Homo sapiens: one gene and its partner. The protein of the gene in region 1 interacts with the protein of each later gene in a pairwise test. Each region holds a gene or a part of one and is shown in the gene's direction. Other genes may lie near its edges.

Region 1 (5,588 bases):
AATACCATGCTCTCCCTGCTACAAACCAGTACATCCAGTTCTGTGGGTCTTCCTCCTGTTCCACCAAGCTCTTCTCTTTCCTCTTTGAAGAGTAAACAGGATGGTGACCTCAGGGGTCCAGAAAACCCCAGAAACATTCACACGTACCCTTCTACATTAGCCTCCTCTGCATTATCTTCTCTATCTCCTCCTATTAATCAAAGAGCTACGTTCTCTTCTTCAGAGAAATGTTTCCATCCTTCCCCAGCTCTTTCAAGCCTGATAAACAGATCTAAAAGAGCATCATCCCAACTATCTGGCCAGGAGCTGAATCCTTCAGCTCTTCCTTCACTCCCTGTCTCCAGTGCTGACTTTGCCTCTCTTCCCAACTTGAGGTCCTCCTCTCTCCCTCATGCCAATCTGCCCACCCTGGTGCCCCAGCTCAGTCCCTCAGCTCTGCACCCACATTGCGGCAGTGGTACCTTGCCTTCAAGACTTGGGAAATCTGAAAGCACCACCCCCAACCACAGGTCACCTGTTTCAACCCCATCACTTCCCATATCTCTAACAAGGACAGAGGAGCTGATTTCACCTTGTGCATTGTCCATGTCAACAGGCCCAGAAAATAAGAAATCAAAGGTATTTTTTGCATGTTGCATGGTGCATGCTTATTTTGAAACAGGGAAGAATCTTTTTTTTTTCCCCAAGGCAGAAATCAATAATTATAGTATTAATTGTACTCCTACAAGGAGGAAGAAAAAGTGCAAGACGGTACCAGGACTTGGTATATTTGAATGTGTAAATGAATTATAATCTGTATAGAATTATGTGTTTCAGTCAAATCCTTTGATTTTGAAAATCCTCTTTCTCTTCCTAACTTCTTATATCTATGACTCCAAGGGTATTATTTTTCCTCAGACATAATATGAGTTATATCATTGGCCCTAATGACAGAATTAAAAGCAAGTAGTAGAGATTCAGGACTATGATATGTTTCTGATTGTTTATTAACAGGGACCCTAGCATCCATCCAAATATCCTGTACTGATGGAATAGTAGACAGGATTAATATAAAATGGAATATTATCTTAGATCTAGGCCTGTGACATAGCCAAGCACGTTCTCGTAGCAGAAAGCAACTCTACACTAAGGCATGCTGGCTTCCCAACTATTCTCAAGTAATTCAGATTGTGGATCACCCATACCCAGAATTTGATAGCTGTTATATCAATAAAACAAAACAGTTAAAGTGCCTGCATAAGAAGGGGTGGTGATTTTCAGCTCAGCACATTGAAATAATGTAGTTTTAGAGCTTTGAAATACCATGGAGAGTATGTTTCACTGTCACTTTTCAGATGATGAATGTCACGTTGAAGGGATAAAGTGACCCTCATTATCTTGTAAATGATGTCACAAAACAATTCAAGTCAAAAACATGCATTAAATACCTGCTATATGTGTACCACTATACTAGCTTTCTTTAGAGTGTGTGTGGTTTCTTTTAAAGGGAAGTAAGAGATTTTTTTTGTCTTAGAATAATTCAATTTTAATCAGTAGAAAAAAATATACACAATTTGGAGAGGCTATATACAGTTATTAAATCTACAGTACAGCTAGAAAACCAATATAAGGCAAAATTAATTGTGTAAGTCAGATTATAAATAATCATCAACTGAGTTCAATATAACAGGAGTAATGTGATGGAACATGGTTAGTAAGGGAAGTTATAAAAAATGTCAGGCCTGTCGGAAATATTTAGGATTTAACTTAATGAAGAGGAAAGAAGTTGGCATTTCAGAAATGGAAAACAATCTGACCAAATATACAGAAGATGATCTCAGAAGTCTGTGTGTGGAGACATAAGACGATTAGCCTTATAATCTGACGGTAATAATAGCAGCAATATCAAATGCTTTCTGTGAGTCAGGAACTATGCTAGTATACAAAATAGTTGAAAAATTAATTAAAATGGATTACATCAGTTAAGTTTTGTAACTATATGAAGTTGATAATACTATTTTCCCTATTTTGTACACCAAAAAACTGAAGTTCAGTGAATAATTGTCCAGGTAATGGGTCTGTTTCGGAGCTGACATTTATGTAATGTTAAGTCTGTTGATTCTTGAAGCCATGTTCTTTATTACTATCATTTATTGCTACAAAGAAATAACTCATGTTAGCAATTTAGCCTGACTTTACAATTCTCATGAAGAAAATCATTATTAAGGAATTATAACCAGAATTCCCAATTTATATAATTTTGGGGTCATTTAAAAAATGTATTGGAGATTAAGTCCTTGTATTTTAAACATTCAAAGAAAATGAGATGGATAAAATTTAACTTTTTCTGTGATTCTCAATTGACAATCCTACTTATTTGAGGTAAATTGACCTGTTTATTATATTTTAAATACATATATGTGATTATAAAATTTATTTGTAGAGTATTTAAAACGAACTCACAATCTAATCATTACTGTTTCCTGAGTGCATTAACTATCATTTTTTGAACCATGATGCCATATACTTATTCTTTTTTTGTGAAAAGTGATTTCACTCTAGAAGCTTTTTCAAAGCATTTCTATGTGTGTTTCACCACACTTTATGTTTTCTCCTGTTTTGGATATAGTCAGAGAGTTGGAAGAGGGTGAGCCCCAAAGGGCTTTTGATACATTAAAGGCATATTTATTGAAGACCTATTGTTTTGGGGCTCTCTTCCTGCACCCAACATTGAAAAATTTTCAGCATTTGCTTTTTACTTTTTAAAGAATTTCCAAGTAAAGAAAATTCAAAGAAATGCAAAGTAAATTTGATGAACAGGAAAATAAGAATGATTATAATTTAACTACCAGTAAAAATATCAATAGATTTCTTTGAACAGAAAAAAAAGCTTCTTATCATGGGTAAAATTTATAATAGCTTCTGCAAAAATAGAATAGTATGGACTATGAGACAATGCTATTCTTTTTCATGTTTATTTTCTCCTTGCATCTTGCTATATTATCTCTTTAGGTAAAAATCAGAAAGTCAGCCTACTTTTTTTTATTACAATCTATTATTTTCAGAAATCGTATCTTGAGTATAAAAAACTTATTAAAATGGATGTGGAATAGATAAATCTTATCCCAAGCTCTTTTGATGTTTGGCTAGTGTTTAAATTGGTAACATTATTTTACAGAATGATAGGAAGAAATAGACAAATGCTGTGTGATATTGAAGAATTTATATGCTTTCATGGGTTGTTTCTTGTCTTGCTCCTTCCAGTGTGATGCTAAGCTGAGCACAGGACTCTTTTTGAAATCAAAGAGCTTTAGATTTAGGTCAGCTTTACTCACTCTGAGATTCTGAAATAACAGGGATCATAGAATACAGATGGCATCTAATTAAAACATGAGTGCTTGGAGGATATTAGTTTAAAGTCTGGGCTCTACTGTCCTTTGATATTAAAATAAAATGGATCAACCATAGTATGCTGAGCTAAATTCAGATATAAAGTGTGTTTGATGTTCCTTTTTCATACATAAAATCTTAAGGTTCTGAATCTGCTTGCATTTGTGTGATATAATTGCTATGATATGTTAAATTCAGATGTAGTTTAAAATACTATTTCACATTATAATCATTGCTTTAGATAGGATGGGCATCTGAATGCTGCTCAGCCTGCCTTTTTTTTTTTTTGAGACACGTCCCACTGTGTCGCCCAGGCTGCAGTGTAGTGGTGTGATCTTGGCTCACTGCAACCTCTGCCTCCTGGGTTCAAATGATTCTCCTGCCTCAGCCTCCCAAGTAGCTGGGATTACAGGTGTGCACCATAACATCCGGCTAATTTTTGTATTTTTAGTAGAGACGGGGTTTCACCATGTTGGCCAGGCTGGTCTTGAACTTTTGACCACAAGTGATCCGCCTGCCTCGGCATCCCAAAGTGCTGGGATTACAGGCGTGAGCCACCATGCCTGGCCTACTTTTTGATCAACATCTATATTGTCTGAGACTTTTTTTTCCCATGCAAAAGACTGGATATTACAAAATTCACCCATGGAGTTGTGTCTGGGTCCCCAATCTGTTCTGCCTTCATTTATAAAAGAATTTAAATTTTTATCCTAGTGAATTAGTATGGTGGTCCATATGGAAATTAGGGTAAGCATTTCATCAAAGCCTCGTAGAGTCTGCCACTTACCGAAGACAGTCTGAAGATTAGTTCCAATTATAAAGACTCTCCATTCATGGGCCTGCCCTGGGCTTAAAGCTATTTGGACACATAGCTTATTTAGGGAACAAGTTGAGAGCTATTTTATATTTCATAAAACTTTATAACTGGTGTTTTATTCACAAAAGTCTCCTTCCTTTAAGACATCAAAACATTCCCAAATACATCACACTGAAAACTTAGTGGCAGCAGTCTATCTGTGACTTTCTTCATTTCTGCAGAACCACATGTAATTTGGAAAATGAGCAATATGGAATGTGTCTGCCTGAGATAAAATAGTTAATCTGGGTTCAAGCAAATCAGTCATTCAATAAATATGTATTGATTACCTAATAGGTGTGCTTTTCAAAGCTGTGAGGATATTGCAATAAATAAAATATGCAATGATGCCTGTTCAAAGACAGTTTATATTCTTTGGTGGAAGAGAAACAATCAATAATAACCCCTCCAAATAAGTAAATTATTGTGTGTGTCAGAAGGTCATATGTGTCATAGAGAAAAGTATATCCCTGATTCTCAAGGGAAATAGAGAAGGGATGGTGTCACAAGTTATGTTGGGGTATTGGGATAGGTTTCTTTGAGAATGTAACATCCAAGGAGGTGATACTCCTTAAGAGAGTATAGTGAGGAAGATGCTCTGAGGCCAGAGAGTGCTTGACAGGTACAAAGAACACATTCTGGGCTAGCAGTGAGGAACAGGATGTTGAGGTTGTCAGAGGGAGATGTAGCTGGGAGCCGGATCCTGTAGGAGGGTCTTGTGGGCCACTCTTTAGTCTTTGATTTTTACTTTAAGTAAGACAGGAAGTCTTTGGAGGGTTTCAAATAGATAAGTGACCATCTTAACTATCTCACTGCTAAATAAGAATAGACCATGAGAGGGTGAAAGTTTAAGCTGGGAGAACTTAGAAGTCTATTGCTACCATCTAGGTGAGTGATGATGGTGGCTATGGTCAAGTTATAGCAGTGAAGGTGAAGATAAGATTTCCATTATGTTTTGTAGGCAGAGTAACAAACATTCACCAAACATCAGAGCCACTACGTGAAATGAAAAAAACAACAACAACAAAAAAAAAACGCTGAAACTAGCCTTATGTGCTTTCTTATTTTGTTTTTCTCTTTTTATCTCACTGTCATTTACTCCACTCCCTTCACAAAGTTCTTGAGAATCCTTGACTTTCCAGGCTTCTTTCAGCTATGCTATCTGTCACTCGGCCTCTATACTGACCAGTTCTGTGTACCACTCCTGTGCTTCTCTCCAGCTAGCCTCTCTGAATTGATCCTAGTAACGGTTCGCACTCAGGTGTTCAATGATTGACAAAAGCTTGTCTTCCTCTCTAACCCCGCACTCCCTGGGGGGATTTGCTTTTTTTTTTTTTTTTTGAGGTGTAGTTTCGCTCTTGGC
Region 2 (5,055 bases), on another chromosome or scaffold:
CTTGTTACATAAAGGAACAGAAGGGAGAGAGGGCTTGGAAAGCTACAGGAAGAGGGGACCCGGGTTCCTGCACACCCGCCCACAGGCTTTGTCCTCAGAACCCCTACCCAAGTCACCACCTCTGATTTCATGTGTCAGCCGGGGGGCACAGGTGCTCTCAGGGTTTGTGTTCAGGAGCAGAAGCTACGCTGTACGGAGGGCCCTGACTCTTCCACAGCCCCAGAGCTCCTGGGGCCCAGGGCAGGGTTCACACCCAGTGTGGCTCCAACTCTCGGCTCTTCCAGGAGTGGATGAGCCATCCACATCCCTGCACGGGCACCCACATGCTGGTCACGCAGGGAAACGGCCACGCTCATGTTTTCCTGTATGCTGTGGACTGAAAAATGCATCCCCCACATTCATAGAGCCCTAATTCCTGACGTGACTGTATCTGTAGAGGGGGCCTTTAAAGAGGTGATCAGTTAGATGAGGTCCTCAGGGTGGGCACAGATCCCATAGTACTGACATCTTTATAAGAAGAGAAGAGACGCCAAAGCTCGCTCCCTCTCCACACACACTCAGGTAAAAGGCCACTGCAGACACACACTCAGATAAAAGGCCACTGCAGACACACACACTCAGGTAAAAGGCCACTGCAGACACACACACTCAGGTAAAAGGCCACTGCAGACACACACACTCAGGTAAAAGGCCACTGCAGACACACACACTCAGGTAAAAGGCCACTGCAGACACAGCGATGTCTGCAAGCCAGGAAAAACAGTCTCAGGAGAAGCCACACCCTGCCAGACCTGGCTCAGAGATGTGCAGCCTCCAGCACTGTGAGAGGAAATATGCCTGTTGTTTAAGCCACACAGGCTGTGGTATTTTGTGACACAGCCCAGCTGACTGGTGCACCACAGAAAGACACTCAGAACATTAGAGGAGGCAGCAATGATGTTCTTGCCAATTCCCCAAGCAATGCAATAATTCCCCATCCTGAGCAGCTGCTGAGTGGGAATGTCTCTGGAAAAGCCTCCCAGGCCGCAGGCAGCGAGAAGGTGGGGCAGGCAGCTGGACTCTCCATCACTGGATGGTCACCAAACAGGGTTCATTCAGACCTGCACACCTCTCCGTGTACCTCATCATCATTGCTTTGGGCGGGCCCCGTGGCCTACTGAGAGTTCCTGGCCATTGATGGACATGGCCGTCCTCATTTTTCTGAGGGCCTGTCCCTACAGCTTTGGGATGATCTGACTCCTTTGAGAAGAAGCAAAGTCTTCACCTGGGTGCAATGGCTCATACCTGTAATCCCACTGCTTTGGGAGGCCCAAGCAGGAGAATCACTTGAGGCCAAGAGTTTAAGACCAGCCTGGGAAACCTGGTGAGACCCTTTGTCTGAAAAAAGAAAAACGCCGGGCATGGTGGTGCATGCCTGTAATCCCAACTCCTCGGAAGGCTGAGGCAGGAGGATTGCTTCGGCCAGCAGTTTGAAGCTGCAGTGAGCTACGATTGTGCCACTGCACTCCAGCCTGGACAACAGAGTAAGACCCTGTCTCAGACAACAACAAACAAACAAGCAAAGCCAGAAAGGGCCCCTCCCCAGAACAGAAGCATGGCCAGCAGGGGCTTTGCTGCGTGTGGTCCACGGCAGTCGTGTGGCAGGGGGCGGTCCTGAAACCCAGAGTGAATCAACCATTTGGGTGAGTCACGGCAGGGCACCCAAGGAGATGCCGCTTCTCCTGTTGCTCCATGCCAGGAGGCCCTGGACACCCGGCTCTCCTCCCACCTTCAGCCCTCCTTCTGGTGTGGCTGTCCCAACTGTGAGTCCCTGAGAGGGAAGTGGCCAGAGCCGAGGGCAGGCTCACCCCGCTCCCCAGGCAGCCCCTGTGAGCAGCCTCTGTGGGTCCTAGAGCCAGAGCCAGCCCTGGCGACCCTCCCCTCCTCTGCCCCGTCCTGAGTGTCCACCGTCTAATTCTTACCACTTCAGGGTGAAGAAGGCCCAGGACAGGCCCCCTGGGGAGCAGCCCCCTCCTCAGCTCCCGAGACAGCCAAGGAGAGAGCCCAAGGACTGGCAGCCCTCTCCCCTTCCTTCCACGCCTTGTAGCAGAGGAGGGTGCCCACCTACCCACCACCAGTTTGGAGGCTACCCACCTACCCACCACCCCCCACCACAATGTGGCTCCGAAGCCGTCTATGCCACAGCCCCTCCAAGGGCATCTCCCGGGGCCAGGAGGCACCTTCCCTTTGAGACCTCCCCTGGGTGGGGCCAGGTTTTTGCCTCTTTGATGCCCATCTCTGCCCTGGTTCCCCCGGCCACATTGCCTGCCAGTGCCCTTCGTTCAGAAATCACATGAGGCCAGGCGTGGTGGCTCACCCCTGTAATCCCAGCACTTTGGGAGGCCAAGGTGGGCGGATCACCTGAGGTCAGGAGTTCGAGACCAGCCTGGCCAACATGGTGAAACCACGTCTCTACTAAAAATACAAAAATTAGCCGGGTGTGGTGGCGCACCTGTGGTCCCAGCTATTAGGGAGGCTGAGGCGGGAGGATTGCTTGAATCCAGGAGGCGGAGGTTGCAGTGAGCTGAGACTGAGCCACTGCACTCCATCCAGCCTGGGCAACAGAGCGAGACTACATCTCAAAAAAAGAGAAAAAAGAAATCACAAAAAGCCACCTGGCCACCTCTCTGGTGTCTGGTGTGGGGGAGCCTGGCACCCATGCTCTGCCCCTACTAGACTCCCCTGGCTGTCCGTAACCTTGGGAACACCCAGCCTCTTTCCAGAATGTACTCCTGAGGGAACTGAGGCTCAGAAGAGAAGCCACTGGCCAAGATCCCAAAGCTCCTTCTGGCAGAGCCCAAGGTCAGGCTTCTACCCGGGGTCCCGTTCACAAATTGTGTTCACCCTCAGGTCCTGGGTCGACCTCGGAGGCCACACGAAGGTGCCTGTCCTCCTCTGCAGCCATGGGCTCCAGTGTGTCCCAGCCTAGGACCTCTTGGTGGCAGCCCCCAGGGGTCAGCTGGACACCAGGCAGCGTCGCCTGCCCTCTGGGAAAGCCCTTCCTGTTTGCTCCCCGGGCTCCTCTGGCGTCTCTGGCCCCTCTCAGTGGACATTTCCCTCCGGACGGCACTGTACGGGGGCGGCTGCCCGAGGCAAGGCCTGGCCCCACCCCCCACCGAATGCTGGCAGGGCCTCACCCCCGGCACACCTTCCCACCAAGACCCAGCTTCCAGAGTGGTGCTGGCCACAGCCATGGGCACTTTTGTGTGAATTTCAGTTTGGCGTGTCCCCTGTGGAGGAGCCGACAGCGGGGGCAGGAAGTGCAGGCTGGGAGGGGAGTCGGTGCTGCTGAAGCCTCTGGCCAGGCAGCCTCCATGTGCTGAGCGGTGGGCCCACTCTGAACCCCTGGCCTGAGAAGGAAGGAGGGAGGGGCCCTGGGATGGAGCCTCAGGTCCAGGCCCGCACCCTCCACTGCCCAGACCCCGGCAGCGCCTCTTCATCTTGCTGAGCGGCCATTCCTTCAGCTGCAAAAGGTCCTCATAACTGAAGCATCGTCCTCAGGGTGATTGTGGTTGAGGACCCAGGATGTGGCTGTGCATTGCAGCATGGGCATCATCCTACCTGGCCTGCCCGTGGCCACCAGCTGGCCTCTCTGCGGTGTCACCTGGAGGAGGCTCCACAGGAGCCAGCTGAGCCAGCACCAGGCACACACTGGGCCACTGGGAGCACCACGATGAAGGATGTGTCATTGGATTGTAAACTAGAGTATAATAGCAAGAGCCGTCAGTCCACAAGGATCTACATAAATGTTGAGTAAACAAATAAATGGAGAGAAAGCGAGATCTCCCACACAGAGGAATTCCAAATAACGGGAGTAGATGCCTCGTCCTCCAGGAGGGGGTCGTAACTCCCACTCCTGACATGTGGACAAGTGTGGGCTACACAGAGTGGCTCCTTCCCGAGAGCGCCATGTGGGAGGGGAGAGAAGGAGCAAGTCCACCGTGGAGCAGGCCACCATGGCTGACGAGCATGACCCGGTCAGCAAGGCCGCCACGGCCAGTGATCCGCTCTGCTGACAGCAGGTGCCCTTGATAGGATGTGGTGAGGACACTTCACCTCATGGGCTTCCTTCTCAACCCCATAAGCCCAGTATCGCCATGAGAAAACATCAGGCAAAAACCCTCAGCAGCCCTCCTCAAAACTGCCAGAGTCCTCAGACACAAGGAACGTCTGCAAAAGGTCGCAGCCGAGAGGAGCCTTGGGAGACGTGCCGACAGAACGTCATGTTTCCTGGGTGGGATCCTGGAGCGGAAGAACATCAGGTGACACCCGGGGAAACCCGAATCCCGTGCGGCGTGCAGGTGGCACCAATCTGTGGGCACCCTAGTGATGGGAGAGGGGACGGCAGGGACGCGGGCCGGGAGGGTGCGGGAGCCCCCTGGACTACCTGAAGCTGTTCCTAATGAAACATTTACTGAAATTTTTAAAAATGGAAGAGGAGAGGAGGGGGAGGAGGAAGAGGAAAAAGTAGAGAAGAAGGAGGAGGAGGAGGAGAAAGAGGAAAAAGTGAAGGAGGAAGAGGAGGAGGAGAAAGGAAAAAGAGGAAGAGGAGGCAGAGGAGGAAGAGGAAAAAGAAGAGGAGGAGGAGGAGGAAGAGGAAAAAGTGGAGGAGGAAGAAGAGGAGAAGGAAGACTTTTCGAAAGGGCTGAAGCTGCTCCTCTCCTAACAGGCAGCATCCCAGGTTAAAGGATGCTGAAGCATCCCCGTCTGTAGCATATCAGAAGCCCCCTGGGATGTGAGCCTAGCAGCACAGTGCTCCAGGTGGGAGCTGGCGATGCATTTTGTTCCAACGAAGCCTCACAGGCAGCAGGCAGGCATGAGTGCAGAGGAGGGAGAGGTCCTCAGAGACCAAGTCCTACCAGAAGGCTGAGCAGAGGAGGCAGAGCCTGAACCTGGACCCAGGAAGGGTCCGGACAGGTGGGAAGCCCTGGAGAGGACACTCGTCAAGGGGCGGGGTGCTGGGAGGGAGGGACCGAGGTGGCAGGACTCGGGCTGGTGTTAGAGGGCCCTGGGGGG

The links. The genes of interacting proteins can lie anywhere in the genome.
Region 2: the proteins of MLIP (region 1) and ABLIM2 interact in a two-hybrid assay, tested with the Homo sapiens proteins (one large-scale study listed by BioGRID).

Annotation. Positions count from the first base shown.
Region 1 is NC_000006.12:54,137,669-54,143,256, forward strand, and holds part of MLIP (muscular LMNA-interacting protein), read left to right. Parts: coding exon 1-618; intron 619-5,588. UniProt on the Homo sapiens protein: Required for myoblast differentiation into myotubes, possibly acting as a transcriptional regulator of the myogenic program. Required for cardiac adaptation to stress through integrated regulation of the AKT/mTOR pathways and FOXO1.
Region 2 is NC_000004.12:8,022,509-8,027,563, reverse strand, and holds part of ABLIM2 (actin-binding LIM protein 2), read left to right. Parts: intron 1-5,055. UniProt on the Homo sapiens protein: May act as scaffold protein. May stimulate ABRA activity and ABRA-dependent SRF transcriptional activity.